2 separate regions of the Homo sapiens genome follow, and region 2 is linked to region 1. The links come from fine-mapping of genetic effects on gene expression. A gene starts in region 1. The other region holds a variant in brackets. All regions are shown on one strand. Distances are between the middles of the regions.

Region 1 (2,912 bases):
CCAACGGTCTCCCTCCCTCGACCTGTGCGGATTACAAATCAAAACGAGATTTGAGTGGGGACACAGAGGCAAACCATATCAGGGAGAGTATCCTGGATTACACAGGTGGGCCCAATATAATCACAAGGGTCCTTGAAAGTAGATGAAGGAGGCAGAGGATGGCAACAGTGATGCAGTGTGAGAAAGACTTGATCACTATTGCTGGCTTTGAATATGGGGAAGGGGTCATGAGCCAAGGAATGTGGGCAGCTTCTAAATGTTGCAAACAGCAAGGAATTGAAATTTCCTCTAGAGCATCCCAAAAGGAAAAGAGCCCTGCCAACACCTTGATTTTAATGCAGTGAGTTTTTGTGTCAGACTTCTTACTTATGGAAGAACTGTAAGATAATAAATTTATGTTGTTTGAAGCCACTAAGTTTGTGGTAATTTGGTATAGCAGCAAAGGGAAATTCACACAGCCAGCTACTTTTTAAACGCTGTTCCTGTGTTTGCAGAATCTGTAACCTCAAGGGGCAGAACCTTCCTTCTGCAGAATATGAGGTCTTTTCCCAGCTGCACTTGCAGCAAGGGCACAGATCCATGGCCAGTATCTGTCAATTGTACACCTGCATGATTTTGAATTAGAGGCTGGTCATGTGCAGAGGGGAGCCTGGCAGAATCTGTTCTGTGAGGGCAGTGGCAGGGACAGCTGTCACTGCAGCAGCGTGTTGCTGTCAAAGACAGCAATTCCCACAGCAGGGTTTGCGCACAGTATGGTGTCATGGTGGGCACCTGGCAGTGTCAGAGTCCAGTGACGAGTTCCAGGAGCCTGCCCTAGGCTGGACTTTGGACATTTTTCCTGGCTGTATAAGCCCTAAGCCTGGTGCCCTTGTCCTCCTGGAGATTCTGGGAGCCTTAATAAGTTCCTTTTCTGCTAAATTAGCCAGAGTTGGTTTTTGTGGCTTGTGATTCAGAACCCTCAGTAAATCAGATATGAATGAACAATTCAATTCACTCAAAAAGAAAGTGGTGACACATCCCTGTAGTCCCAGCTCTCAGGAGGATCGATTGAGCCTGGGAGGTCGAGGCTGCAGTGAGCCGTGATCATGCCACTATACCCCAGGTTGGGTGACAGATAAGACCCCATCTCAACAAAAAGGAAAAAAAAAAGCAAGAAGAAAGAAGAAAAAGAAAGAAAGGAAGGAAGGAAGGAAGAAAGGAAGGAAGGAAAGAAAGAAAGAAAGAAAGAAAGAAAGAAAGAAAGAAAGAAAGAAAGAAAGAAAGAAAGAGAAAAAAGAAAGATGACAAAAACAGGAGAAAAAGTTGACCCTAGCTAGCAGTCAAAGAAACTCACAGCTTGAGGTGCCATATGATAGTTACTAAAAACAAAAACAATTGTTTCTGTAGCACAACAACGAGAACAGTTCCTCAGATAATGTCATTTCATTCAACTTTTTTTTTTTTTTTTTAATGATGAGAAAAAAATTGATTCTCTGCCAGGGCCACTGTCTGTGTGGTTTGCATGCTCTCCCCACGTCCACAGGGGTTTTGCTCTGGATGCTCTGGTTTTCTCCCACCCCTCAAAGAGGTGCATGTTCAGTTCACCGGCATGTCTACATGGTCCTGGTGTGAGTGTGGGGTGTGTGTGAGTGTGCCCTGCGATGTGACAGTGTCCTGTTCAGGGCTGGTTCTTACTTTAAGCCCTGAGCTGCTGGAATGAGCTACAGCAACCGGAGACTGGAGACTCCGGCAACCTAGAGAACTGTTATTATTGAGTAAGTTATCTTACTTGCTTTTATTTATCTTTCTTAAATGTATGTATAGCTCATATTTATTTCAGTGGTTAATATCAGAAGTGTTTTTTTTTTTTGAGACGGAGTCTCACTCTGTTGCCCAGGCTGGAGTGCAGTGGTGCAATCTTGGCTCACTGCAACCTCTGCCTCCCAGGTTCTAGTGTTTCTCCTGCTTCAGCCTCCTGAGTAGCTGGGACTACAGGCATGCGCCACCATGCCCGGCTAATTTTTGTATTTTTAGTAGAGACGGGGTTTCACCATGTTGGTCAGGCTGGTCTTGAACTCCTGACCTTATGATCCACTCGCCTCGGCCTCCCAAAGTGCTGGGATAACAGTCATGAGCCACCGCGCCCGGCCTTTGGTTTTTATTTAGAATTTTGATGTGTTTGTGACTAGAAATAAACCATAGGAATATTAATTTGCTTGTGGTAAAATTGGTGTTACTTACTTTCAGATTGCAAGAACATATTGACAACCTTAAGTGAGGACTGACTGTACCTTTGTTTATAGCTAGTAACTAAATGGATACACTGTTTGGAAAGTAATTTGGAAAGGAGTAATAGGAATATTTAGCAAAAATCTGTAAACGTGTCCTTAGCTTCTGACCTGGCAATTGCCAAGAAGCTTGGGAGGGTGTTTGGTAAGATAAAAATTATTTGTGTGCTTGTGTTTGAAAATTATTGATGTGGGCTTACAGTGTGTTAAACTAGGGGTGATAAAATTTGCATTAGGACCCCAGAAGCTTTTAGAGAGCAAAGAGATTAGAACCTATATTCAGTTTCCTGAAATGTAAAGTGACTGAAGCTGTCAGAGCGGCTGAGATCAAGGCTCTCTCTGAGGCTGGGCAGGAGAATGACTCCCCTGGGAGAACATTTCCACAAGGGGAAAGTGGTTAGTAGATGCGTACCCTGCACCAAGGCACGTGATTAAAGGGGAATATGGTCTGTGCAGTAGCCATACCAGGGGGCAGTTTATGCCCCCAGAAAACTGCTCTCAAAAAGAACCAAGAGCTGTAATTTTGGGAACACAAGCCTCTTTGGTGGAGAATGGTGTTATTGCTAAATGCTCAGCATCTGGGGAGCATTTTAATGCCTGATGCTGCATCAACTTGTGGAAAACTACCAATAGTCCTTGAAATAA
Region 2 (2,912 bases), 120 kb after region 1:
TTAAACTATATATAACTATATTTATATATAAATATATAACTCGATTTATATTTATATATAACTATATTTAAACTATAAATTTATAATATCTCTATAAATTTATAAACTATAAATCGCTATAAACCATTTTATCTAAATAGACCAGACTCATTTTAAAATTATATTCTCCTTAGCCAGAACTCCAAATCTCATTCTATGGCACACCTCCTGAAATTTTTAGGACCCAGTGTGGAAAGTAACTTGAAACCAGCCAAAATGCAGAAACAACTCCAGAAAAATCATAGCACTATCAGGCACAGACAATACATAAATAAGTTCATATCAGAGGCATTAAACCCAGTACAGGACTGGCAAGGTAGCTCACATCTGTGATCCCAACACTTTGGGAAGTGAAGGCGGGAGGATCATTTGAGGCCAGGAGTTCAACACCAGCCTGAGCAACATGGTGAGACTCTGTCTCTACAAAAAATTTAAAAATTAGCCAGACATGGTATAGTCCCAGCTACTTGGGAGGCTGAGGTGGGAGGATGGCTTGAGCCAGGACTTCAAGGCTGCTGTTGAGTCGTGATTGTGCCACTGCACTAGAGCCTGGGCAACAGCGTGAGACTCTGTCTCTTAAAACGAAAACAAAAAACCCAATACAGTTTCAGAGGAGCATTTTGCCAATATTCAGAGATTATGTGCTAGGAAAGATTATACTCAGAAGAGTAAAAAAAGGCACCCTTGCAGGAATGTACAAAATTAAATCAGCAGATAGAAATTATATGTTATCAAAAATATGTGATAATCAGAACTACAAATACCAAACAAAACACAAAACCAGGGATGGGAATTAAAGAAAGGTTTTGTGTGTGTGTGTTTAATCAAAATTCTCCTAGGATTGTTTAAAATGCAATCGGTTCATTTGTTCTGAAGGATGCTGACAAATGTGTGTAATTCTCCTGAGGTCCACCATACTTGAAAGTTAATTCACCCTTTCTCAATTCCTCAACATGGGTGGTTTTCTGCTACAGAAATACCAACACTAAACTTGTGCAACTCCTAAACCACAATATTTAAAAATAAGAAAGTCACTGGGGCTAAATTAGGAGACAAGGGTCACACTAAAAAAAATTATTTTTAAAGCTACCACACAAAACACGAAGCTTACCCCTTTCGAAGGGATTTCCTTGAGAAACAGCGTATGAGGTAAAATATCAGGGGCACATGATTTTTTTTAAATTTAAACTTTACGTTGTCCAGAGAGGACAGTTAAGACATTTCCTGTGTGTAGGCTCCACCCTTCTCGGCGAGCAGTTTTAAAACCTTCCTCAGCCCTTTCG[G/C]AATAACAGCCTTTTGTTATGGGTGGGCCTAGGGGTGCACTCCTCCCTCACACCTTCTATTTTCTCCCAGTTTTGCTTTTTTTCTGAGACTTCCAGGCTAGGCTGGCGGTGGAGTGGGCTGACGATCCCGGTGGGTGCTTTCCCCCAGGCGGGATGACACAATGAAGCTGGGAGTCCGGGCCAGGGGAAGAGGAGGAGCACGCAGTGGATTCTCCGACCCGAAAACCGTGAGGCCCCTAACAAACCTAGATAATGAACGCCCCCCCCCACCCCAACTCCTCTATTTACTACTTGCAAGCGCCCCCAGCTTAAGTTTTCAAAAAAGCAAATTTGACTGCCGAAGAGCTCAAGAGAAATGAACCAAAGAGACACAGAACCGTTCCCCAGAGCGAAGGGAGCTTCCTCTGAGCTAACTGCCAGAGGAATGTGGCACAGCCCAGCAAATGTTTAAAATCACGTCCTGTTCTGCCTCGTTTTCCAGAGAAGTGTCATTACTGTCAACTATTTCACAAGACAAATAAACCAATGAATGAAAGACATCCTCCCCCCTCTTCCCAATGAAAAACATTCTAGGGCTGAGCGGCTTCCTTCCTTCCTCCTCCTCACAGGAACCACATTTGCAGCACTGAGGAGGTTAAAATAAGAAACACACAGTCCTCGAATACTACTTTTTTACAGTGCTAGAGCCATTCCCAGCCTACTACTGACTCCAGGGGCTTCCAAACGGAAGGAGTTCTGTTTTCAGTTAGGAACCTTTTTTCATGTATAAGCTCTGAGACACTGCTGGCCAGGGCCTGCTGGCTGGGCAGGGACAGCTGAGGGGTGCAGGGGCCGCAGGGAAAACAGCACACTGGTGCACACACAGGCTTCTGCTCTCCCTAAAAATATGTTCAGTAAAATATTGGACTCATTCAATTGTCTGAGCCTTAAAAAGACTCCAAGAAACCTGTAATTGATCCAACTAATCCAACCCATAGGGTTGAAATGACAATAACCGGCTTTCATTAGAAATTATATAGCCCACTAAATAGATGGGAAGGCTCTTCCCAACACATCAGAAAAATTAAAATTAAGCTTCTGAATAAAAAACTGTAATTTACCAAAGGCTTAGGAACAAAAAGACCCCTCCCTCCTCCCCTTTGCTATTGTTCTACAGGACTGGGTCTGAGCACGGCACTTTACACCTTTAAAGCTTCCCAGAGGTAAGAGGCTGGGGGCTGGGAGCCAGAGGCGACCCGGAATCAAATACCTGCATACTAATAAGTCTATGAGCACTGATCTACTAGGAGGTAAAGTTAGCTAAAAGTAAAGAAAATGTGTGTGCAGCAGTTATCTGACAACCTAGAAAGCCAAAAAGGTGCTGGAGAGACAGGGACTCCAAATGGTAGCTCTTCTGGAGTGGAGTATGAGCAACTGCCTTCCCTAAGTCGTGAATGGGGTGCCCGCAGCCAACCACAGGGTCTGGGGCCGAGCTGTGAAGCCGCCCGTCTTCATTAGGGTCACAAATAAAGCCTCCAAGAACCCCCGTTGGCACCCAGGACAGGCCCGGCCTTTGGGAGGGGGCTTACCTTGCAGCTGCTTGAATCTGCC

Alleles and levels. Alleles are on the strand shown, and positions count from the first base shown. SD is a standard deviation of normalised expression in the study named.
In carriers of allele C in region 2, the expression in whole blood of the gene that starts at base 1,533 in region 1 tends to be higher than with G alone (moderate effect, 0.42 SD a copy in GTEx).

What was found.
Region 2: its variant is fine-mapped to the expression of SPTBN1-AS2 in whole blood (GTEx, PIP above 0.99).

The regions. Positions count from the first base shown.
Region 1 is chr2:54,678,666-54,681,577 of GRCh38, reverse strand. It overlaps SPTBN1-AS2 (SPTBN1 antisense RNA 2), which reads left to right and starts at 1,533. Exons shown (of 3, transcript NR_186176.1): 1 at 1,533-1,754. It overlaps LOC105374653 (a long non-coding RNA gene), which reads right to left. Exons shown (of 3, transcript XR_940104.2): 2 at 1-22.
Region 2 is chr2:54,558,866-54,561,777 of GRCh38, reverse strand. The region is part of intron 2 of SPTBN1 (spectrin beta, non-erythrocytic 1); the gene reads right to left. Among named protein-coding and RNA genes, the nearest start is that of SPTBN1-AS1, 1.6 kb to the right of the region's middle. RefSeq lists an enhancer at 1,365-1,534. The variant G/C (reference allele first, on the strand shown) is at 1,323.